Linked DNA regions of Homo sapiens. The protein of the gene in region 3 purifies or fractionates together with the protein of the main gene of each other region. This does not show direct contact. Each region holds a gene or a part of one and is shown on either strand. Other genes may lie near its edges. The genes, in order: MGA, POLR3F, SLC28A1, POLR3C, ALDH3A2, MTNAP1 and NMNAT1.

The links.
Region 1: the proteins of SLC28A1 (region 3) and MGA purify together in Homo sapiens (affinity purification with mass spectrometry; one large-scale study listed by BioGRID and IntAct). This does not show direct contact.
Region 2: the proteins of SLC28A1 (region 3) and POLR3F purify together in Homo sapiens (affinity purification with mass spectrometry; one large-scale study listed by BioGRID and IntAct). This does not show direct contact.
Region 4: the proteins of SLC28A1 (region 3) and POLR3C purify together in Homo sapiens (affinity purification with mass spectrometry; one large-scale study listed by BioGRID and IntAct). This does not show direct contact.
Region 5: the proteins of SLC28A1 (region 3) and ALDH3A2 purify together in Homo sapiens (affinity purification with mass spectrometry; one large-scale study listed by BioGRID and IntAct). This does not show direct contact.
Region 6: the proteins of SLC28A1 (region 3) and MTNAP1 purify together in Homo sapiens (affinity purification with mass spectrometry; one large-scale study listed by BioGRID and IntAct). This does not show direct contact.
Region 7: the proteins of SLC28A1 (region 3) and NMNAT1 purify together in Homo sapiens (affinity purification with mass spectrometry; one large-scale study listed by BioGRID and IntAct). This does not show direct contact.

What each region holds. Positions count from the first base shown.
Region 1 is NC_000015.10:41,764,905-41,768,404, reverse strand, and holds part of MGA (MAX gene-associated protein), read right to left. Parts: coding exon 3,343-3,500; intron 2,402-3,342; coding exon 1,125-2,401; 3' UTR 1-1,124. UniProt on the Homo sapiens protein: Functions as a dual-specificity transcription factor, regulating the expression of both MAX-network and T-box family target genes. Functions as a repressor or an activator.
Region 2 is NC_000020.11:18,477,390-18,480,889, reverse strand, and holds part of POLR3F (DNA-directed RNA polymerase III subunit RPC6), read right to left. Parts: intron 853-3,500; coding exon 709-852; intron 489-708; coding exon 381-488; intron 1-380. UniProt on the Homo sapiens protein: DNA-dependent RNA polymerase catalyzes the transcription of DNA into RNA using the four ribonucleoside triphosphates as substrates.
Region 3 is NC_000015.10:84,883,472-84,887,461, forward strand, and holds the start of SLC28A1 (sodium/nucleoside cotransporter 1), read left to right. Parts: upstream 1-1,190; 5' UTR 1,191-1,234; coding exon of another isoform or gene 1,235-1,280; intron 1,281-3,200; 5' UTR 3,201-3,316; intron 3,317-3,914; exon of another isoform or gene 3,915-3,990. UniProt on the Homo sapiens protein: Sodium and pyrimidine nucleoside symporter of the plasma membrane that imports uridine, thymidine and cytidine into cells by coupling their transport to the transmembrane sodium electrochemical gradient.
Region 4 is NC_000001.11:145,830,700-145,834,199, reverse strand, and holds part of POLR3C (DNA-directed RNA polymerase III subunit RPC3), read right to left. Parts: intron 941-3,500; coding exon 836-940; intron 727-835; exon of another isoform or gene 711-726; coding exon 618-710; intron 1-617. UniProt on the Homo sapiens protein: DNA-dependent RNA polymerase catalyzes the transcription of DNA into RNA using the four ribonucleoside triphosphates as substrates.
Region 5 is NC_000017.11:19,662,251-19,665,750, forward strand, and holds part of ALDH3A2 (aldehyde dehydrogenase family 3 member A2), read left to right. Parts: intron 1-1,082; coding exon 1,083-1,249; intron 1,250-2,697; coding exon 2,698-2,797; intron 2,798-3,500.
Region 6 is NC_000017.11:73,242,433-73,245,932, reverse strand, and holds part of MTNAP1 (mitochondrial nucleoid-associated protein 1), read right to left. Parts: intron 3,038-3,500; coding exon 2,930-3,037; intron 766-2,929; coding exon of another isoform or gene 743-765; exon of another isoform or gene 587-742; intron 1-586. UniProt on the Homo sapiens protein: Critical regulator of mitochondrial DNA (mtDNA) abundance. Binds dsDNA throughout the mitochondrial genome without sequence specificity and controls mtDNA copy number by promoting its replication.
Region 7 is NC_000001.11:9,983,737-9,985,998, reverse strand, and holds the end of NMNAT1 (nicotinamide/nicotinic acid mononucleotide adenylyltransferase 1), read right to left. Parts: 3' UTR 864-2,262; coding exon of another isoform or gene 856-863; 3' UTR 501-855; downstream 1-500.

The DNA.
Region 1 (3,500 bases), about 43 Mb from region 3:
ACTATACAAAAATATAAATATCTTTACAGACTGTCAGTCCTTCATATCCTGACAGTTAATGAGTGAAAAAGCTCTACAGATCATTGGATCCATGGTTGCAGATAAAAAATATATCTTGTGATTCAAATACTGCCTTATTTCCCTGGTAAAGAGTGCCTACTGTGACTTTTCTTTACATCCTGTGCAGGTAATAGTGAATGAAACCTTCAAGCACCAGGAGGCTGGTTTGATTTGGGAAATTTCCAGCCCCATGATTTTTTATTTTGGCCACTGTCTCTGGTCTGGGGAGATAATGCATTTTATTTTAGCTGTCTCTTGAGTAACGTAATTTGTGGAAGGGGTAGGGCTCCCTCTATGCCTACCTCCAAAATATATACTCCCAGTAAAAATCTCTGGTACTGTGAAATGAGCTTTTCAATGCCCACAAAAATAATAAGGGAGAACTACTATTTTTTTAAGATCTCAAAATAATTAATAATAAAAGTTAAAAGCATCCCTACTTTACTGAAGGCTTGAATTTGTTAATTCTGATTGAAAAGGTGAGGGAATGGGAGCTACTTAGGATATGAAAAAAGAAAATTTTACTGAATGACACAAAGTCCTTCACTTTGGTATTCCATGGTACCCATCCTCTCTCTCCCTATTCTTGAAACATCAACTAAAAAGTGTCTCTTCTGGATCCCTTTGCACAAGTCCATCGCATTCCTTAGATTTTGGACTTAATTCAACAGCTACAAGCTACAGTTCAGTCTACAGCAACTCCAAAGTTGCAAACAGCTCTTTCGCTTGTGGGGGAAGAACTAGAAACCACTGTGGAGCCAGAGTCATGTTATAAATTCCTTGGGTAAGAGGGGCACCTCATGTTCAGTAATGGATCACATCTTCTTAGAGAGGATGAGGGGACCCAGCACCACAAGTGAGGTAACACATTTTAACATGATCAGAATTTCAGAGTACTTCTTATACCAGGGTCAGCACCCTACCCCCTTTCTCCCATCATTATCCACTGCATCATTGAAGTCAAGGATCCAAGTTCTAAGACACAAACAAACAGATGCCTGCAGAGAAAGGAGGTGAGATCTATTTCCCCTCACAGCCTGGCTTCTGCTTAAGGACAAGTAAGTTCATTTCCCTGCAGAACTTGGTGAGGCCCCCGAGTTGCCCAATTTAGCCACAACAGGTGCCAATGTAGGCATCACCTTGCTTTCCCGGCCTTCCTGGTCATTCCCTGTTAAGTTCATTTTGTGTCCAACTGACCCAACTTTGGCAGCTATAGGTGCCAAACAAGGCATCACCTTGAGACTCTGACCATCTGCATCACTGGAAGGATTAGCTACTTTTAAACCTAGAGGGGCCAACTTTGGCATAGGCCTCCACAAAGTGTCTGTGCTGTTGCTGTTCTCCAAGCCAGTCTTCATGTGTAGGGTGGGGGGTGAGGACACACTTTCGGGCTCTGCAGGGAGGCCAGAAGTATTCTTCCCTCCATCAATAGCTTTCTTGTTGGAAAGGAGGGAATCCTTTATTTCAGAGTCAATAACAATCTTAAGGACATCTGGCTCAGAGGCTGGTTCTGCAAGTTGTTTTTCATTCTCAGAAAAGTCATCGTCTTCCAAGTGCAAGAGGAGGGGACTGATAGAGTCACTCTCCCCTTGAACATCAGGCAACTCTTTCAAACCAGTTCCCAAGTGCTCAACCTGGAAAGTTGCTCTGCTTCCAGGAGGAACCTTACTAATAAAAGCCCGCCGAGCATCCCCTGGGAACTCTGTATCCATAGAGCTGGGTAGTTCAGCCAGGCCAACAGAGTCATCATTTAGTTGTTGATTAAGAAAGGCAATTTCATTGAGCAGTGAAGTCAGTGTCTCATCAGTATCATCCTCATCTTCCATGTTAGTCAGCAGTTCACTGGAATCAAGAGCTGCTTCCTCTATAGCTGATGTTACTTTCCTCAGTTCCATCTCTATGCTTGAGTCCTTGAGATCTTTCATCTTTAATTTATGAAATGAAGAATCCTTTGACTTCACTCTCTCCCCTCTTGATTCACTCTCTTTCCATTTATACTGAATCCCTCTCATATCACCAGAAATCTTTTTAGGTAAGAACTCTTGTGCTTTCTGCATATTGGAAACGTCAACTATTTGTGGATAACCAGAATCTTTGTTTGCCAGAAAAACCTGCGTTGGACCCAACGTCACTCTGCCATCTCTGTTTCCTCTGGAAGAGATTCTACCCTTATCCTCTAAGGAATTATCTTCATTCCTGACGGTGTCTTTCAGATGGTCAGATGGCTTGCTATCAGGAACTTCATGAGGATATTTGCTGCCACCCATATCTACCAAACCTCCCTCTGTGGCCAATGATGTCACATTAACAATTCGTGGCATCATAAATAAGTCGTCATTTTCTGAAAAACAAAAATTAAAAAAAGAAAAATTCATTTAGATCTAGTGTTAACACCTCTCTTTCTCTCTGTCATATCATATAACCATCTTAGGGATTTGTAGTCTAAATTCAGCACTCTACTTTTATCAAAAAGATGAAAGAAATATCAGTTCTTCAAATTATTGACCTAACCCAACAAGAAAAATCTCAACTAAAATCCAACCAAAAGGCTCTTTCCACCATTTTTTAAAGTTCCATTTAATTATTTTATAGAAATGCTCCCCAAGTTAATTCTTCTCCTAAGGCAGAAATGCATCTTGATTCTGTTCACCTAATTAACTGCTACTTAGCGCAGAAAATGAAGCCCTAAAGGCAGCATGGGAACCAGGAAAGATGAGTCCTCCAGAGTGAGTTTGGCAACAGGTAGAGACAAGGAATTTTGGCTGGCAATGGCAATAAAGTAACCAGGATCCTAATATTACTAAAGAGACCCTTTCATCTTAATAGAAATTTAGTTGCCTGGAACCTAATCACCCAAGTGAGGCTTCTCTTTCAACTTTACCCTTTGCCCCAAAACAGAGTAGTGCTCAAAGTGAATGGGGCTAATAATGCAGGACTGTTATCATCTCTGAGTACCACAAAAAGTGACAAATATTTATCAACACCAAGACCTAAGACCATGATCATTTAACATCTTCCTTTCCCTCTGATATCTTTTTTATTCTTCCTCTTAGAAATTACTAGTGTTCACAAAATGGTTCCCAATACCAGGTGTAAAACACACCAAACAGTACCACAGCTCAAGCCAAATGTGTTCTAAAAATAGGGCCACCTCTTACCAAGGCAAATGCCAACAGAATAGCTCTTTATCATTACAGAACACATCCAAAGCCTTCCTTGGTCACCGTGAGATGTTAGGGATAACTTTATCACTTCCCATAGAGGACAACACTTACAACATACCTGGTAGAGCCACAGCACTACCGGCAACTTGAGGCTTAAGATCAGATTCTAAGAGATCAGGAGAAACAGCTACCACTGGTCCTGAGAATAGGGGACCTTTTAGGGTGAGCAATTGCCCTTGCGGAGTCATCACAAGGTTGGCAGAGGTGTGTGGAGTG
Region 2 (3,500 bases), on a different chromosome or scaffold from region 3:
CTTCACTGTGAAAAGCATCAGTGTCCTTAAAAAAAGAATTTCAAAAGGCTAGGGTACAGTGGCACTTTGGGAGGCCAACGCAGGAGGATCACTTGAGTCCAGAAGTTCAAAACCAGCCTGGGCAACAAAATGAGACCCTACCTCCAAAAAAATAAAAAAAGCATCAGTGTCCCAAGCTGAGTATCAGTTCAGACAATGCCCAATGGCAGTGACTGCCTTTGCCTAAGATACAGGACAGTATTTTCCCAAAGTGGATTCTGCAGAATGTTCGTAGCTATCATCTCAAAAAAAAAAAACAATGTGGGTCAAATACATGTTTGGAATACATTGTATGTGACAAAGAATAAGTTTTAAAAAATAAGATGAAATTCAGTTCTGACCTTACTGATTCCCAATTCGCAGATATATTTCCACACTTCATGTGATGAGGCAAATGAACTATTTCTTTGTATCATTGGGTTCTGTTTGCTTTCTCGTGCTGTTTCTGCCTATAAGGATTGAAACATAAGAAATGTAAATAAGAATATTGGTGTGTTTTCTGAATACACTTTATACTGAGTCAAACCAACAACAGAACATATTTAGTTAAGTAAAAATTCCCAATTTCAGGTTTTTAATTCCTATAAAATATGATAAATAGATTAAAATCCTTTGTGAAAAACTTTTTACAAGAGGGTTTGCAGTGATGTTTCCTCAATCATACCTCACCTTGGACTGTAGGAATTTAAAACACTGTTGGTTAAGCACCTCTACAAATTCAGATTCAAAATCCTGGTCACTGTACCAGGCTCCACCAGTCACAGACCGGTCTGGCTGCAGGTTATAGAGCATATACACCTTCTTTTTTGAGGCCTAGGAAAGAACATGCACAGTTCATGTGTTTATAAGATAACAATTTCCAAAAACAAAAACACCTATATTTTGGAACAGTTTAAGATGTACAAAATTATTGCAAAGATAGTACACAGAGCTCCTATATACATCATGCTGTTTCCCCTATTTTTAACATCTTGGATTAGTGTGGTACACTTGTCACAATTAATGAACTAATATTGATAAATCATTACTAACTAAATGCCATACTTTATTCAGATTTCATTAGTCCTAATGTTCCTTTTCTGCTCCAGGATTCCATCCAGGACATCATACTACATTTAGTCATCTCTCTCAGGCTTCTTTTAGTTGTGACAGTTTCTCAAACACCGTATTTCTATCACTATGGACTCATGAGTATTTATTTTATACTTTGATTTACATTCAGATACTTCATTGTTATTCCCACACTGGAAGCTTTGGAATGCTTTGGGCATTGGAAGCTTTTCACTTGGTTCCTGTATCCCTTTGCTATGCTCCCATCGTGTGTGTGTGTATTTTAGCACTTTTTTTTTTCTTTTGGAGACAGGGTCTTGCACTGTCGCCCAGGCTGGCGTGCACTGGTGCAATCTTGGTTCACTGCAACCTCTGCCTCTTGGGTTCAAGTGATTCTCCTGCCTCAGCCTCCCGAGTAGCTGGGGCTACAGGCATGTGCCACCATGCCCAGCTAATTTTTGTATTTTTAGCAGAGACGGGGGTGTCACCATGTTGGCCAGGATGGTCTCGATCTCTTGACCTCGTGATCCTCCCGCCTCAGCCTCCCAAAGTGCTGGGATTACAGGCATGAGCCCCCGTGTCCAGCTATTGTAGCACTTTCTTACTTTCTAGCACTACAAGATGTCAAGAGCATTTTCTTTTCTTTTTTTTTTTGAAACGGAGTTTCGCTCTTGTTGCCAGGCTGGAGTGCAATGGCACACGATCTCAGCTTACTGCAACCTCCACCTCCCAGGTTCAAGCGATTCTCCTGTCTCAGCCTCCCGAGTAGCTGGGATTACAGGCGCCCGTCACTATGCCCAGCTAATTTTTTTGTATTTTCAGTAGAGATGGGGTTTCACCATGTTGGCCAAGCTGGTCTCTAATTCCTGACCTCAGGTGATCCACCCTCCTTGGCCTCCCAAAGTGCTGGGATTACAGGCATGAACCACCCTGCCCAGCCGTCAGGAGCATTTTCTACATGTTCATTTTATTGCATGATAGAAACCACGACTTGGGCACTAGATGTGTTCATTGCCATCGGGATGTCATCACTTCTAGGCCTTCTCAGTTGGCAGCACGAGATTTATGTGCGCATATTAACCCTTGTATATATACATAGCTATACTCAATATTTCTAAATATAACCATCTATATTATTTATATTAAATTACACAAGAGTCCATACTGATGTTTTCAAGTCTAATCCATTACTACATGGATCATTCTAACTTTCCTTGTTTGTCTGTAACTACTCACCCCAACACTGAGGAACCCAAATTTCACTGGGTTGTAAACATGAAGAATTTGGGCCAGGCATGGTGGCTTATGCCTGTAATCCCAGCACTTTGGGAGGCTGAGGTGGGCAGATCTTTAAGTCTAGGAGTTCAAGACAGGCCTGGGTAACATAGTAAAACCCTGTCTCTACAAAAATACAAAAATTAGCTGAGCATGGTGGCACGTGCCTATAGTCCCAGCTACTTGGAAGGCTGTGGTGGGAGGATGGCTTGAGCCCAGGAGGTTGATGCTGCAGTGAGCTGTGATTGTGCCACTGCACTCCAGTCTGGGTGACAGAGCCAGACCATGTCTCAAAAAAAAAAAAAAAGAAAAAAATTTGGCTAGACTTTGTCCCTTTTTCCTAGGAAATAACTTCTACATCTTTGGAATTTCCCAATAGGCCTTGTTATTCATGGTGAATCCCTTAGATCACACCTGGGTTTATGCTAACAAGGTGACTCCTGATAGGACTCTAAATAGTTTCAGGATAGGAGTTGTCCATGCTGGAAAGACCAACCGCATGATTAGAGGGTTGGGGCTTTGGGCCACATGACATCAGTCCAATCTCTTGGGAGAAGAGAGGAGCTGGAGATTGAATTCACTCACATGACCAAGGATTCAATCAATCATGCCTGTATAATGAAACCCTAATAAAAACTTTGGACAGCAAAGCTTGGGTGGGCTTCCAAATTTGGTTAATGCTTCTGTCATACAAAATAATTTCACCACCCTAGAAATATTTCTCATGCTTCACCTATTCAACTTTCCCTACCATCCCTGCCCTCACCCCGATCTTTTTAGTCTGTCTAGTTTTGCCTTTTCCAGTATGTCATATAGTTGTAATCATACAGTATGTAGCCTTTTCGGACTGGCTTCTTTTACTTAGCAATATGCATTTAAGATTTACTCATATCTTTTCATGATAGCTTATTTCTTTTTATAACTGAATACTATTCTGGTTTGTCTATCCATTCACCTATTGAAGGATACCTTGGTTGCTTCCAGTTTTTGATTATGAATAAAGCTGCTGATTACGAATAAAGCTGCTATAAATATTCATGTAGTTATGTGGACATGAGTTTTCAAATCAGTTGGGTAAATACTTAAGAGCTTGACCTTTGGACAATGTGGTAAGACTCTGTTTAGTTTTGTAAAAA
Region 3 (3,990 bases):
CTCCCAAAGTGCTAGGATTATTGCTACTTTCCAATATTTCTACTACAGACTACGGGAAGTCCATTTTTCAATGCCAAATGCAGAAGAAAAAGTTGTATGGATGCCCTTTCTGCCAATCATCCCAGGTTTAGGAGAGAAGAATGATGAGGTCATGTTCATGGAACTTGACGAGTGATAAGCCTCTTTATTTGTCCAGTGCTTGGATACACGAATCGATGCAATGAAAGAGACCTCGCCTGTGAAGAGCTAAGAAATGAGTGTGGGCAGAATCATGAGAAGAAAATAAAGAGATTGCTGAGCAACTCTTCTGACAGTTCTTGTGCTTTTTGAATGTTTCACTCACTACTTATAAAATAACCTATTATGTCAGAGCCTGGCGAGAAGGGATCCTCTCCAACTCTTTGACTAATAATTCCCTAAAACAGGAGGTGGCCTGCAGAAGAACTAAAACCAGAAAAGTTAGGTGGTTGCCTCTGAGGAATGGGATAGAGTTGGAGGGGTGGAGCAGCCCCTTTACTGTCAACCCTTCTGAGCTCTGCTGGATGGTGAGGGAAATTATCTATGTATATTTATGTGGTCCTCTCCCCACTCTGCCCTGGCCTGGCTCAGCTCTAGGTCTCACTCAGCGGGCGTCTGCGGGTGTGCCGGGCCTCAGAGGCTGTCTCCTTAGGAAACAGGCCACCAAGAAGCCCAAGGACATGCTGAGGTCCCACAGCTGGAGGGGCACAGCCGGGACACCTGAGGTCCTCCAGCTGTTGGTCTTTCCCTGGGGTCTCCACCCCAATCTATCCAGCCTCCCAACTCCCCAGCCTGTGGCTTTTTGCCACATTCCACCTGAAAAGACCGCTTGGCTTCTGGGGTCTGGGATCCCTGCTGGCCATGCCTCCTTGAGAGGAGGAGCAGGGGAGAAGCCCGGAGTCTCCTGGCCTGGAGGAGGGGAGCAGTGTGTCAGGACACCCCGGATGGGACCTGTGACAGCAATGACACCTGCCAGCCTGATGCCGCTTGACTCCCTGCCAGGTACTTCCTAAGCAGGAGCACGCTGACTCCTCATGTGCTCTATTACCCACCACCAGATGAGGCAGCAAGTTAACTTTGGCAGTCAGGAGTGGAGACCTTTGGGCTCCAAGCTCAAGGTCCACCCCAAGACACACAGCCCATTAAATCCTTGTTGTAGAGATTAGGGCCCACAACGATGTGAAGGTTATAAGCTGCACTGCATGGTTGCTGCTGGATGTGTTGTGTTCCTGGCTTCCCTCTGGATGCTGACAGAAACAAGGGTGAGAGAAAAGGACAGTAGGAGAGGAGGGAAGGCGGGACTGAAGAAAGGAGGGGAAGGGGGTAGCACAGGGCAAAGTGGAAAAGCAGGTAGCGTCCTTTTTTTCTTCACTAGGGCTTGGCGAAGACCCCTTCGAGGACAGCTCCAGGCCCATCCCTGTGGTGGCCACCCATGGAGACAGTAGTGCTGCTCAGAGGCATTTAGTTTTTGTTTCTTTTCTGTTTTTGAGGTAGAGTCTCGCTCTGTTGCCGAGGCTGGAGTGCAGTGGTGTGATCTCTGCTCACTGCAGCCTCCACCTCTCGGGTTCAAGCAATTCTCCTGCCTCAGCCTCCCGAGTAGCTGGGACTACAGGCACCTGCCACCATGCCTGGCTAATTTTTGTATTTTTAGTAGAGACGGGGTTTCACCATGTTGGCCAGGCTGGTCTCGAACTCCTGGCTTCAAGTGATCTGCCCACCTTGGCCTCCCAAAGTGCTGGGAGTGCAGGCATGAGCCACCGTGCCCCCCCTCTTTTTTTTTTTTAAAGGTAGAGTCTTGCTCTGTGGCTAGTTTTCAATCAAGGTAACACATGGGCTCTCAACAGTGTGCGGAACTCTGCTAGAAAAATCAAATTATGAGAACACTGTTACTGTGTGATCCCCTATTGGAAAATGAATAACATAAAATAACATACATTTAGGAAAAAAAAAGTGGAGAAAAGGCCAGGCGCGGTGGCTCATGCCTGTAATCCCAGCACTTTGGGAGGCCAAGGTGGGTGGACCACCTGAGGTTGGAAGTTCGAGACCAGCCTGACCAACATGGAGAAACCCCATCTCTACTAAAAATACAAAATTAGCCAGGTGTGGTGGCGCATGCCTGTAATCACAGCTACTTGGGAGGCTGAGGCAGGAGAATCGCTTGAACTTGGGAGGCGGAGGTTGCAGTGAACCGAGCTCGCACCACTGTACTCCAGCCTGGGCAACAAGAGTGAAACTCCGTCTCAAAAAAAAAAAAAAAAAGGAGGAAAATGCCACACAAACTCAATAGTGGTCATCCCTGAGGGCTCAGATTCCGGGGACTTTAACTTCCCTCATTCTGTATATTTCTCTAATGTTTAAATGTTTAATGATACACTTGTAATGCTTTGGTAATTCAAATGACAGATGAAGAAAAAATGTTTTCAAAAAGAGGGGGTGTCCATCCACCATCCTCTCCAAACTTCCAAAACAACCAGGAGGTGCCGGTACTAGCAAGTATTTATGCATCATAGAGGATTTTGTCCTGAGCGCGTACCATTAATTATTAAAGAGATGTTGTGAATCCCGTCAGATGAGTTTAATGTTTAGTGTGAGGACTGGAAAACTAAAGCATTCAGCCCTTCGCTTTGCACACCGTTGGCTTAGGTATTCATTTAACAAAGATGAAATGAAGGGGAAATGGTGTGATTTGGTTTTGTTTTCTTGACAGACCTGAAACACTTTTACTATTTCTCACAGCTACACTGCTTTCCTCATTTTCCAGCACAGGAAAATTGGTTGCTGTTATAATAAATCCCCATCTAGTGAGAAAGGGAGATAGAGAAAGATGCAAAATGAAAGATAAAATGCAAAAAGCTAACAGCCTGGCTGGGGAAAGGAGGCCATGGGAAGGAAGGAGGGGGAGGGAAATAATCACATAGGTGGCTTCCTGGAAGAAGCGGCCCTAATAGGCCTGGAAGAGGTCAGTTTGGGAACTGGGGAGAGGGCAGAGGAGGGCATCTCTGATGGAGAAGCAGCAGCCAGTGGGCAGGAGCTGCAGGGAGCCAGGTTGCAAGTGGGCCTGCTTCCTGTATCCCTGAGACCGTGTTGGGGTCCCCACCCTGGCTGTGGCCCTGGCCTCTGGGGAGGCGCTGGGCAGAACTGGGTGGCAGGCCCAACCTACTCCGACCCTGGACTCTGCCCAGGAATTTCTGCTGAAGTGACAAGGCAAGCCAGAGCCAAAGCAGGTTGGACCCAGCTTGTCCCCACAGAGACGTGTGCTTCCCTCTCTCTCTGAGAGCGACCTGTTAACCGCAAATACGTGAGTAGAAACAGGGCCCCGCTTCTGTGTGCGCTGCTGTGCGTCTGTGTGTGAGCCAGGGCATTCCCAGGCTCTGCCTGTGTGTGTGCACGCACATGCACGGGTCTCTGAGTATGTCAGCCTAACTGGGCTGGCATTTGGATGGAGTAGGGCACCACCCAAGGGGAGAAAAAGGAGCGGGAACAAGAGAAGGGAGAGAGGAGGTGTTAGTTACCACTCTTATTTACAGATGAGCTTAAGCCTACGAACTGAGCTTCAGCAAAAAATGAACTATATTGATTCTTGCAATGGAAAGTCCAGGAGTAGGATTGGTTTCAGGTATAGTTGGATCCAGGAACTGGAATGATGCCTTTAAGGATGTTGCACCTCCATCTTTCAGAGATGGAAAAGTAGAATACACTGAAGATCTCACTTAATGGTAATAGTTTTAACCAGTTGTAGGGAGTGATGAAAGCTAGGTCCTCTCTTCAGAAAAATGCCTGTATCAGATACATATGCAGGCTGTATATAATTCTTTACTTTCCTTCCCTATGAAGTGGGCAGAATTTGCTGTTTCTGCCTGGAACTCCCAGAGTTCACAAGGACTTGCCTCTTACAGGTTCAGATGTGGGTGCAGGCTGGGGTGGTGGCGCACGCCTGTAATCCCAACACTTTGGGAGGCTGAGGTGGGAGGA
Region 4 (3,500 bases), on a different chromosome or scaffold from region 3:
GTGATTAGATGTTTAGATACACAGATGCTACTGCGTTACAACTGCCTACAGTATTCAGTACAGTAACATGCTGTACAGGTTTACAGCCTAGAAGCCATAGGCTATCCCGTTCAGTCTAGGTGTGCTGTAGGGCTACACCATCTAGGTTTGTGTTAAGTACACCCTATGATGTTCACACAATGATGAAATCACCTAACGACACATTTCTCAGAATGTATCCCTGCTGTTAAGTGATGCATGACTGTATTACTATGAAAGTAATATAAATAACACATATTGGATATATTAAATATCGATATTTTAAGTACAGGGGGTCAAATAATGTCCTGAATGCCAAGGCTCTCAGAGTCCAAATTGTGGATTCTTAAAATAATTAGGAATAGGCTGTACTTGACGAATAGATACTTTGACTAAGTGAATAGTGTAGATTTTTAAAAGCTGGATCCTAAGAGACCAAACATTTCAGTGCTCATCACTTGAAGATAATCCCTGCTCCACATCAAATGCCCTTCTCTTTCAAGGCTCAGACCTCAACCCAAACTCAGGATCTGTGTATAATAAACGTTGATAACACCCAAGAATCTGTCAGAAAGTTAGTGCAAGAACATGAAACTCACCTCATTGGAAGACAATGGCTGGGTGAAGGGAGCACTAGAGGAAGTGGTAATCTCACTCATTCGGAGCATGGTTCGCACAATCTCGCTGCTTGTCTGTTTGAAAAGTAAACTAGAATTCAGAAATCACAGTGCTGCCCCTGGCTCTATGTGCCAATGGCCATATCTGACAAATAAGTAAATGTCCCTGATGACCAATGACAGACCCACTTAGGTATTACCTGGTCCATCCTGTTAGCAACTGCGCTCACAATGGCTTGGTCACGGAAGTGTTGGTGGAATCTGTCAAGGTTGGCCTGCCAATAAATCCCATCATCTGGAATGGGCTGAGGAAAAGATTTAGAGAAACATTTAGCTATAGTGTAAAGTTTTCTGGTGAGGAGCTTGGATTTAATGGTTCACCATTTCTTTTCCTACACAGTAACAATTACATTGGTTGGAAAAAAATCATTCAGTCATGTAGACTGGTGTCTAGACAAATTCCGACTTCAAACAGGTTTTCTAAGCTCATCTCCAATCTTTCTCTCCCTATTTTATTATTTAACATTTATTTTAATTTTTTTCTGAGACGGAGTTTTGCTCGTCACCCAGGCTGGAGTGCAGTGGCATGATCTCGGCTCACTGCAACCTCTGCCTCTCGGGTTCAAGTGATTCTCCTGTCTCAGCCTACTGAGTAGTTGGGATTACAGGCAACCACCACTGCGCTAGGCTAATTTTTGTATTTTTAGTAGAGTTGGGGTTTTACAATGTTGGCCAGGCTGGTCTCGAACTCCTGACCTCAGGTGATCTGCCTGCCTCGGACTCCAAGTGCTGGGATTATAGGTGTGAGCCACCACATCCGGCCTTTCTCTCTCTATTTTAACTCTTCTCCATTACTTTCAAGTCTCCAACTTGACCCTTCTTCCTTCTCACTCTCGGCAGATGACTTTGCCTCTCATTTCACAGAGAAAATAGAAGACACTAGGCCAGAACTCACTCAGCTCTGTGCACATCCTCACCACATTTCTTTTTTGTTCTTGATTCATATTTTCACTCACTTTTATCACAGCTGAAAAATGCTCCTTTTACCTAAGGTTAATGCCCATATTGGTATTCCAAATCTTACTCTCTCATTCATTCTTGGGGATCCAGCTCTATTTTACCCTGTCCTCTAACATCTTCAGGCTTTCCTTCTCTACCGCCTTCTTATCAGCCTTTACCCTGTCCAAGTCTCTTTCTACTCTAGAATTCTCTTTCAACCCTATGCCTTCTCTTCTTTTCCTTAGTGTCACAGCCAAGCTTCTCAAACAGTTGGCCATCTCAGTTGTATCTCTACCTAGATTTACGCAACCCATTTCCACTATTGTACTGAAATGTCAATTGTCACTCGCATTCCAGTGAAATTCCACAACTGTCCTTAAGGATTCTATGTTGTTAAGTTCAAATAATAATTTCCACTTCTGATCTTATTTAACCTTTTGGAAGCATATGACATGGTTGGACATTTTTTCCTTCTTAAAACTTTATGTGGCTCCTTGGTTTTATGACACCATTTTTTTTTTCCTTTTAAAGACAGGGTCTTTGTCACCCAGGCTGGAGTGCAGTGGTGTGATTGTAGCTCACTGCAGCCTTGACCTCCCTGGGCTCAGGTGATCCTCTCATCTCAGCCTCCCAAGCAGCTGGGACCACAGGTGCGTGCCACCACGCTTGGGTAATTTTTGTATTTTTCTGTAGAGACGGTCTCACCATGTTGCTCAGGATGGTCTCAAATTCCTAGGCTCAAGCGATCTGCCCGCCTTGGCCTTCCAAAGTGTTAGGATTACAAGTGTGAGCCACTGGGCCTGGCCGACACCATTTTTTCTTGGCGTTACTTTGAACCTTTCTGGCTACCTTTCCTCAGTATCCACAGATTCCTCTTTCAGATCCCAACTGTAATCCTGGTGTTTTGTCAGGGTTCTGTCCATACCTTTCCTTTCTTTTTACTCTACATGCTCTACTTGGGTAATTTTATCTGCTCTCCAGGCTTCAACTATTGATGCATTTCCAAATCTGTTACTCTATCCTAGAACTCTCTCTTTTTTTTTTTTTTTTTGAGATGGAGTTTTGCTCTTTCGCCCAGGCTGGAGTGAAGTGGCACAATCTCCGCTCACTGCAACCTCTGCCCCCCAGGTTCAAGCGATTCTCCTGCCTCAGCTTCCCAAGTAGCTGGGATTACAGGCCTGCGCCACCATGCATGGCTAATTTTTGTATTTTTAGTAGAGACGGGGTTTCGCCATCTTGGCCAGGCTGGTCTCGAACTCCTGACCTCAGGTGATCCACCTGCCTCTGCCTCCCAAAGTGCTAGGATTACAGGCATTACCGCACCCGGCCTATCCTGGAACTCTCTATTATGCTCCAGATGCATAGACTCAGCTGCCTATTTGACACTTCCATTTGTTCCCCAAACTGTTCTGTTTTGTAAGTTTTCAGGTAACTACACTATAACCAACCCAATTTTTTTTTTTTTTTGAGACAGGGTCTTGCTCTGTTGCCCAGGCTGTAGTGCAGTGGCACCATCATGGCTCACTGAAGCCTTGACTTCCTGGGCTCAAGTGATCCTCCCACCTCAGCCCCTGAGTAGCTGGGACTACAAACATGTGCCACCAGGTCTGGTGTTTTTTTTTTTGGTACAGATGGGGTCTCACTATGTTGTCCAGGCTGGTCTCAAACTCCTGGGCTCAAGTGATTCTTCTACGTCAGCCTCCCAAAATGCTGGGATTACAGGCACGAGCCACTGTGCCTAGACAACCCAATTTCTTTTTTTTTTTTGAGATGGAGTCTTGCTCTGTCACCAAGGATGGAGTGCAGTGGCGTGATCTCAGCTCACTGCAACCCCTGCCTCCCAGGTTCAGGCCATTATCCTGCCGC
Region 5 (3,500 bases), on a different chromosome or scaffold from region 3:
GATCATCTTACCTGAGCATGGCTATGCAGAGGAAGTAGACACTCAGCCCAAATTGTTTCTCTGACCTGAGGAAGATGTGGGCAATGGATTTGGAGTGGCAGTTTATATACCCCCTGGAAGTGGTGCTGCAAGAAGCTGTCCCCAGCCACATTGCCAAGATAACCTATTAGAAACTGGGGGTAAAGGAAAAGTGCCAACTTGTTATTGTCAGATGACTTCTCTTTTGGTTGACGAGCCAGTTTCTTACTTACAGCATCTTTTGGAGTACTGCTAGTTGGTGACTTACATTGGCAGCAGATGCTGGGACACTTTGTCTAGCCTCCCCAGCATCTGTTTCACCCTCCTTTCTTGTGCCTCTTCCCCATGGTAGATGGAACAGTGGACTAAGGTTTAGGGAATTTTGACCATTTAAGTCTGTTTTCTTAATCTGTCTAACAGAGTTATAATAAAGGTTAATGAGATCATATATATGAAAGCACTCGAGTTAAGAAAAATAGTATTGATTTGATTCACAGAGGAGCTGTCTTTGCTCCTAGAAAGACCTGTCCATTCGAGACCAGCCTGACCCAACATGGAGAAACCTCATCTCTACTAAAAATACAAAACTAGCCGGGCGTGGTGGTGCATGCCTGTAATCCCAGCTACTCGGGAGGCTGAGACAGGAGAATCACTTGAACTCCAGAGGCGGAGGTTGCAGTGAGCCGAGATGGCACCATTGCACTCCAGCCTGGGCAACAAGGGCGAAACTCCATCTCAAAAAAAAAACCTGTCCACAGAAAAATGTTAAGTATAATCTACAGTTAAATACATGCATGGCTGTGAACAGGGTTCAATGTGAAAAAGATATATTTGAGTGTGTATCGTTCCCTTGGTTTGCACAAGTATCCGCAGGGTTGTGATTCACAGGCTTTGGAGACATTGAGTATGTGCACAGTTCATCCACGTGCTCAGGATTTTTCAATAGATATGACTTGGGTGGGAGAGGGAAAGGCATGGATAAGTGACCCAATGAAAGAGATGTAATATGAGAGTTGTGCATTTTTGTCTAATAAGCATTTTCATTTTGTTTATTTTCTTTTTAGCCCCAACAGTACTTACCGATGTTGATCCTAAAACCAAGGTGATGCAAGAAGAAATTTTTGGACCAATTCTTCCAATAGTGCCTGTGAAAAATGTAGATGAGGCCATAAATTTCATAAATGAACGTGAAAAGCCTCTGGCTCTTTATGTATTTTCGCATAACCATAAGGTAAGCTTTAGAGAGAACAGCTAGTTAGCATAAGCAACTGTCAAGAGTCATGTTCCTTCTTTGCTGTAAAACAATGCAAAAAACAATGTGAAACAATGATGGTTTCTTTTGTGTCATGTCAGAGTCCATCCACTAAGTGAGGTTGTGTTCCGAGGTTGCTGTCTTGGTTAATGAGACTCTGGGGTTATCACAGCATCCATTCCCCTCCTCCCTCGGGTTAGATCTGAGTCTGCAGGGTTGAGTGTCACAAGGTTTTTGATTCACAAACATCTCCTGTATAATTGGAAGACTTATATGTGCCAGCATTAAATGCTTTTCTGATGTTAATCCACAGGGCATTGCTGAATAACAGCCTGCACAAAATGGCATTCACACCCACTGTGTGGGACAAAGACCCCGACACTGTCACATAAATGGTTGTGATATGATGGATTTTAGTTTCTAACATGACGCTAGCTTCTTGTTAGAGTGGTGGAACTGCATCACCTGGTTGAGCAGTTCTGCCACTTTCTGCATGGCTCACTCATTCATGTCACTAGGTGACCAGCCGCTACTAAGAGACCATGGCCCAAATGTTTTCTGGAGAGCTTCTGATGGTAATGTATAGATAGTCATGTGACAGCTTTTGGAGCTTGTGAGACTATTGAGATACAGATAGCTACAGGTATTTGAAGTGAGACCAAATGTGTGGGGCTCAGTAAAGACTGGGTTATTAACAAAACAATGGTTTGACATTTAAAACCATGGATAATGTGGGCAGGAAGGAACCCTGAAGCCGAAAGTAGGCTGGCCAGGGTATAAGTCAGGTGTGGAGCACTTCCCAGCAGTGGGTCACCCGAGGTCACTATAGTCCAGACTTGACGTTTGCCATGAACAATTGTCAAGGGCTTGCTGGCACCCAAGGGTAAATGACGTTTACTAGTCAAGTGTTCTTGTGCTTTTCTGAGCCTTAGGCCAAACAACCATTTATTTCTTAAAAAATAGGATGCTAAATCTAAAGTCTTAAATATTTTTACATTTCATAAAGACTAAATAATACCTATTAATCATGTGTTATAATTTAAAGCAGAGATAAGAAAGAAATAATAACAGTTTTTAAAGCTGGAATATAGTCTAAGCTGTCCCCTTTTAAAGAGTCTTTTGCTGCTGTGTTGGGGAGTACAACTCCAGGTTGTGGCTGAGTAGGCCCAGAGGTTTGGAGCTGCCTCCTTTTGTGCACTAGATGTGTGTCTGAGAAGTTGGGTATCAGTCACTTTGCTAAATTAACCAGTTGAGATTGTTTGTCTATCTGGCATGGTGTCCCCAAACTCGAGAATTTTCACTGACACAAAGCCAGAATGTGCATGCTTTGAGCACATAACTGAGCACACAGCCCTCTGTGTGGTGGGGCCATGAGTGTTCCCTAAGGGGCAACTTCACTGACCTGGACACCTTTGGTCTGTCCTCAGCTCATCAAACGGATGATTGATGAGACATCCAGTGGAGGTGTCACAGGCAATGACGTCATTATGCACTTCACGCTCAACTCTTTCCCATTTGGAGGAGTGGGTGAGTCTTATTTTCTCCTGCTTGTAGTAGATATTTCAAAAGCACCACCATTTCATGAGTGGATTGTATGGGCTGCTGAAATAGCCAGCTGTTGCGTACCCTGATTGTCCTCTCCTGAGGGAGACCTTTTCCTGGTCACCCAGTTGACTGGTTTTCCTGCTTCCCCACCCACCCCTCCAGCATAGGGCAAATGTCTTGTCACTCTCTTTCTGTCAGCAGCACTGACTGACCACAGCTTTGTTCACTTCGTTGATTTTGTTATCCTGCCACATTTAGGAGATTTGGGAACCAAGAATCAGGTCTCAAATTAATTAAGAAGATCTCTCTTCGTGTGTGTGTGTGTGTGTGTGTGTGTGTGTGTGGTGTGTGTGTTTAATGAAGTAGCAAATGAAAGGTTCGGAATACCAGGGACAGAAGGTAGAGGGGTTTTCTAATGTGCCTTTGTTTTCTGCTCAGTTCTTACCTGCATTGTTCCCCAGCCCTTTGTTGGGAGGAGCAGCCTCTCCTTGAATTGTTTTGTGATTTGAGTAAAACGGGACTCCCCCTGTTCTAGAGAGGATGGGCAGAAAGAAATTCATTCCAAGTGAAGCTTTGTGGACATAGCCTGATCCTTGCTTTTCCCTTTAGAACATGACCTGCCTGCCTCTCCCACATGTGAGATGACTGACTCAGCTTTTTATTTCTCCTTTGGGACCTAGGCTAG
Region 6 (3,500 bases), on a different chromosome or scaffold from region 3:
AATTTCTCAGTAATGCACAGAAACTCTTGAGAAAGGGATAGATAGGGGTGGGATTCTGAAAAGTTTCCAGGAAGAGATGATACATTAGCCACCGGTTCATTATTATACTCAATTAAGATGTATAAAATGTGATTTAACATTATAGTTAGTGTGCTATTTTAAAAATCAGCTTAAAAATATTTGTAAGCTTTTTTTCGGAGGCTTACCTGCAACTCGAATGCCCATCCTTAGCTCTTGTGTTTCTCACACCTTATCAAGATCTGGTCAAGGGCCCCAAAGAAACTAAGGGGAAGGGCCTGATGTGGGCTTATTTTCTGCCAATTCAGATACTTTCCTGTATCAACATATAGGTAGTAGTCTGGTATCTCATATAGCTGAATGGTAATGAGATACTAGCTTTTTACTGAGAAGTGACTTCTTAATTTTAGTGATGAACTTTGTCATCTTCACATCTCCTTGAATAACAACTTTATGGTTAAACAAAACTAGTTTTTCTCTAATTCTCAGTTGCTCCTGAGAGCAAGCCAAGAACATCCAGACAGAACCAGATCTGTCTATATTAATAATACGTTTACTTCCTGTATCATTATTTTAGATTCCAATAATTTTATTCTTTATTTTTTTCACTCCCCTCTCCCTGTCCCAAATATTATACATTTTTAAACTGTTAAGTATGTATTGCAGTCGTCTCCACTGTACGCCCTTTGCTGTTCCAGAGCTTTAAGTGATGTCCAGGTCAACACTACTTACGCCACCGCTGCAGCTCTTTGGATAAACAGAGACAAATGTAAGGATCCGAGAGGCCACTTCCAATGACTGTTACTATCTTTTGCCTCTACAGATCATTCTCTTTTTGTTTTATAAGTTTAGAAATAGAGTATTAAGCACAATGAGAAGTTTGTTTCACTTTCTTCAGTCTCTGTTCATTAATGTCAGGTATCAAACAATCCCTTTCAGACTGGTAAAACTTTAAGAAAAGCCCTTTTCTCTGTGGGAGAAATGACTCTTGGTTTTGGGCCTCTCCATTTATGCAGGACGATCAGAAAGGCACTTCTTTTCCTCACCCATGGCCAGGTGTCTGATACAAGAGATGGCGGCGAGGCCATCCCAGCCAGCATGCAGGAGTGCTGCCGCCTTGTTCCTGCTGTCGGACCTACCCGCTACTCACTAGGCACTGATTTCATCAAACGAATCCCAATTAGCATCAAATTGTGATTTTTTTTTTTCTTAAGAAGTCCAGTGTGTGAATTATGCTGGCCTTCAGAATTCATCGTTATCTTGTACTTTTACACCTGAAGTTTTCATCTGAAAGTGGGCTTTTTGTTTTAATTGTACAAAAATACTGGTGGTTTTTTTTTTTTTTTTTTTTTTTTGAGATGCAGTTTCACTTGTTGCCCAGGCTGGAGTAGTGGCGCGATCTCGGCTCACTGCAACCTCTGCCTCCTGGGTTCTAGCAATTCTCCTGCCTCAGCCTCCCGAGTAGCTGGGACTACAGGCGCCCGCCACCACGCCCAGCTAATCTTTGTATTTTTAGTAGAGACAGGGTTTCACCACGTTGGGCAGGCTGGTCTTGAACTCATGACCTCAGGTGATCTGCCAGCCTCGGCCTCCCAAAGTGCTGGGATTACAGGCGTGAGCCACCGCGCCCGGCCCCAAAATACTGGTTTTTGATTGTACAAAAACCAGCACAAAAATTTAATTATACAAAAATGCTGATATTTTTGATACCCACTCATCTTTTTAACTAGAAGGATTTTTTTAATAATACAATAAGAAATGAACAAACACATCTTGAATTAAGATAAATGAAATTAAGGTATTTTCCTTCTGGTTAAGACTTAGTGCAAGCTGAAACTTGGAGAATGGCACTTTGTTTTTTAAGTGTTCAAAGTAGATTAACTGAGATAGCAATAAGACTTAGACACATTGGTAAGTGACAGCTGTATTCTATTCCTCCTTCTCTCTTTTGTGGTGTAAAGGTGTTTGGTTTCAATGCCAAAAAGGTGCTCTTAGGCACCAAGGAAAAGCACCTTCCATTGGAGCAGGGTAACAGTTCTTAGGTACCTGACCTTTTAGCAGGGAAGGGAAAAAAGCTACAAAGGCTGAGTGCGGTGGCTCATGCCTGTAATTCCAGCACTTTGGGAGGCCGAGGCAGGAGAATCATGAGGTCAGGAGTTCGAGACTAGCCTGGCCAATATGGTGAAAACCCTGTCTCTACTAAAAATACAAAAACAAAGTTAGCCAGGCATGGTGACACACACCTGTAGTCCCAGCTACTCAGGAGGCTGAGGCAGAAGAATCACTTGAACCTAGGAGGCAGAGGTTACAGTGAGCTGAGATCATGCCACTGCACTCTAGCCTGGGTGGGAAAAAAAAAAAAAAAAGACAACATGAAATGGAGGACAAGGGCAATTATGTAAATTCTAGTCAAATCTTATACAGGCCATTACAACCAAGCCTCTAATAAAACCCCGGAGCCTGCCAGGTGCAGTGGCTTATGCCTGTAATCTTAGCACTTTGGGAGGCTGAGGTGGGCGGATCACCTGAGGTCGGCAGTTCGAGACCAGCCTGACCCACATGGAGAAACCCCGTCTCTACTAAAAATACAAAATTAGCCGGGCATGGTGGTGCATGCCTATAATCCCAGCTACTCGAGAGGCTGAGGCAGGAGAATCACTTGAACCCAGGAGGCAGAGGTTGCAGTGAGCTGAGATCGTGCCATTGCACTCCAGCCTGGGCAACAAGAGCAAAACTGTATCTCAAAAAAATAAAACCCAGAAACCCCAGGCAATAGCTCATTCACCAGGGCATGCCAGATACTGTAAAGCTGTAAAAAAAAAAAAAAAAAAAAAAAATTCAGAGAATCCCTTGGAGGTCCACATAACGGAATGGGACCTGTTATTTAGGCTAGAAATATAGAAAGACTTACTCAGACGTCTGAAACTCCAGCTACAACACAGGACGAAGTATCCTGTGAAGAGCATCGTGATGCCACCGAATCCACTCTTCCTTATGGTGGTGTTGCACCTGATCCAGCCTGTTCAAAAGGAAACACGGCTTGTTGTTACAGCAACTGAAACTAGGGCCAGTATCCGCGAGTCATTCAAGTTTTCCCAGTTAGCCTGAGTGATGGAACTGTAATTCAGAGATTTACACGCACATATTTTAAACACATAAAGGCTAACATCAAAGAACCTTAACTTGACTAGATTCAAATTAGTTACTCTTGTTTTGGGTGCTTGGTTAAAATCTTTAGTGGGAGGAGGCTAATACAACTGGTTAACTTGAGGTTTAGAGTTTTTCTGGCTTTGGGAGGAGGCACAATCAATGTGGGCAAGGGAAAGTTGGGGGTAGGTATTAAAAAATACAAGCTGTTGAATAAATGGTAGCTGTTATTAGCTTTGGTGCTTTCAATTATGTCCAACTCCAAAATGAACACAGACAAATGGAAAACTAGGAAGACAACACACATTTTAACATTTTTTTCCTCTCCTCTTTAG
Region 7 (2,262 bases), on a different chromosome or scaffold from region 3:
AGAGAATAATGGGACCAGGCACCACTATGACAGGTCAAAAACCCTATCTGGGCAGAGCGTGATGGCTCACACCTGTAATTCCAGCACTTTGGGAGGCCAAGGTGGGCGGATCATTTGAGGCCAGCTTTGCCATCACGGTGAAACCCTGTCTCTACTGAATATACAAAAATTAGCCAGGCGTGGTAACACACGCCTGTAATCCCAGCTCCTTGGGAGGCTGAAGCAGGAGAATTGCTTGAACCCAGGAGGCAGAGGTTGCAGTGAGCCGAGACTGTGCCACTGCACTCCAGCCTGGGTGACACAGCAAAACTGTCTCAGAAGCAAACACACACACACATACACACACACACAAACACAAAAGTTAATTATGGCCCATATCACCTTCTCCCTCGGATTCCACTGTTCTAGTTCCAAGGAATTGCTAACACTGGGCAAGTTCAGCCTAGTCCTTCCGTGAGGACTGAATACGTCGGACTCATCTCCATCAGACTACCACAAACTGTTGTTGAAAGCTTTATTTGTCCTCACTTAGGGTAAATGAAAAATTTCAAGATTTGGCTACAACTTCATTCTTTGAAAAGTAATATTTTACAGAAAGAGAGATTAGGGGTACTGGCTCTGAAGACAAAGCTTAGATTCAAGCTCAGCTCACCATTTATACCAGTCCCCTGATTTTGCCGTTTCCTTATGATATAAGGCACTCAGGAGCACAAGCCAAGCACACAGTAAGTGTTCAGGAAGTGCTGACATTATGAAGTTCAAACAGCACCACTGGTAAACGAAGTTCAGATTTCAGAGGTGGAGACTGTGTACGCAGCCTCACAGCTGAGTGGATGCCGTGGTGAAATGTTTAGATCATAGGCCTTTGAGAAAAATTATGAGAATGTTAGAGGAATGGGCCTCCGTTGGCACCCAGAAATAAACGTTAAAGGAGGCTATTTCATCATATAACAACTTCTGGACTTCTAGAAAAGTGAAAAGAGAGGCTTGGGTAAGGAAGATGAAAGCCCTCCCACCACCCTGCATGCTGACCTAGGGCATCCTTCCTTCTACTCTGTTGTTAGATCCTCATGATGGCCAAAAAAAAGCATTCTTTAACCTAAACCATCCCCATGGCTCAATCTCTACCCCTTCATCACCAAGGAAAAGCCACTTCTCTTATCTGAAAGGCCTGCTGTTCACATAAGCAAACACTACCACAAAGGCTCTCCATCATCCGAATGAAGATGCCAATCAAGGACTTTTACTGCAGGTTTGTTTGCCACTTTCAAATTACACAATGTAAGGGGTAAAGGGTACAACACATAAAACCCCCAGCATCAAACAAACAGGCCAAACAAAACACCAGCATCACACATTTCCTCTAAATTGACAGTACAAAAGCAAATTATGGAAATGATGCAGGAGGGAATAAACAATGGCATATTTTCTTCACGTCAGTCATTAATATTTATTCCCCTGTGAAATTCATTGTTCTAACTTCCATTATTCAAAGTGGAAGTTCTGTCCTTGAGGACACCCAAAATTATGCTATTACGTGGCAGCATCAACAGCATCCTCGGCGTTGGGAGAAAAAGCCAAGCTTGTTCTCTGTACAAAGCTTGTTCTTTGTACAAAGTTGTTGCTCCATAAATAGTGCAACAATAGGATCAGGCTGGGTGCAGTGGCTCATGCCTGTAATCCCAGCACTTTGGAAGGCCGAGGTGGGCAGATCACCTGAGGTCAGGAGTTCAAGACCAGCCTGTCTAACATGGCGAAACCCCATCTCTACTAAAAATACAAAATTAGCCGGACATGGTAGTGGGTGCCTGTAATCCCAGCTACTCAGCAGGCTGAGGCAGGAGAATTGCTTGAACCCGGGAGGCGGAGGTTGCAGTGAGCGGAGATCGCACCACTGCACTCCAGCCTGGGAGACAGAGTGAGACTCCATCTCAAAAACAAAAAACAATAGGATCATTGTACCCTTACCAGGGCTCCTGCAAGGGTCCCCACATGCCTTGTCCAGTGAGGTCCTGAGGTCAGTAGTCACAGCTGAGCAGGGCACAGGCACTTCTGAGTAGGAAGGCACGATAGTATGAGAGAAGTTTCCAGCATTGGAAACTTTCTGCAGTTTACGTGACACTTCAGATGAACTAGGTGTAGTTTCCCAGAGGAAGTCCAAATTCAGTTCTGATAGCTTCATCTTGCTCTATCATTACTTTTCAGGACTCCTTCAACTCTTAAACTCCAAGAAGCTAAGGAGGAGAAAATGACCCTCATCTG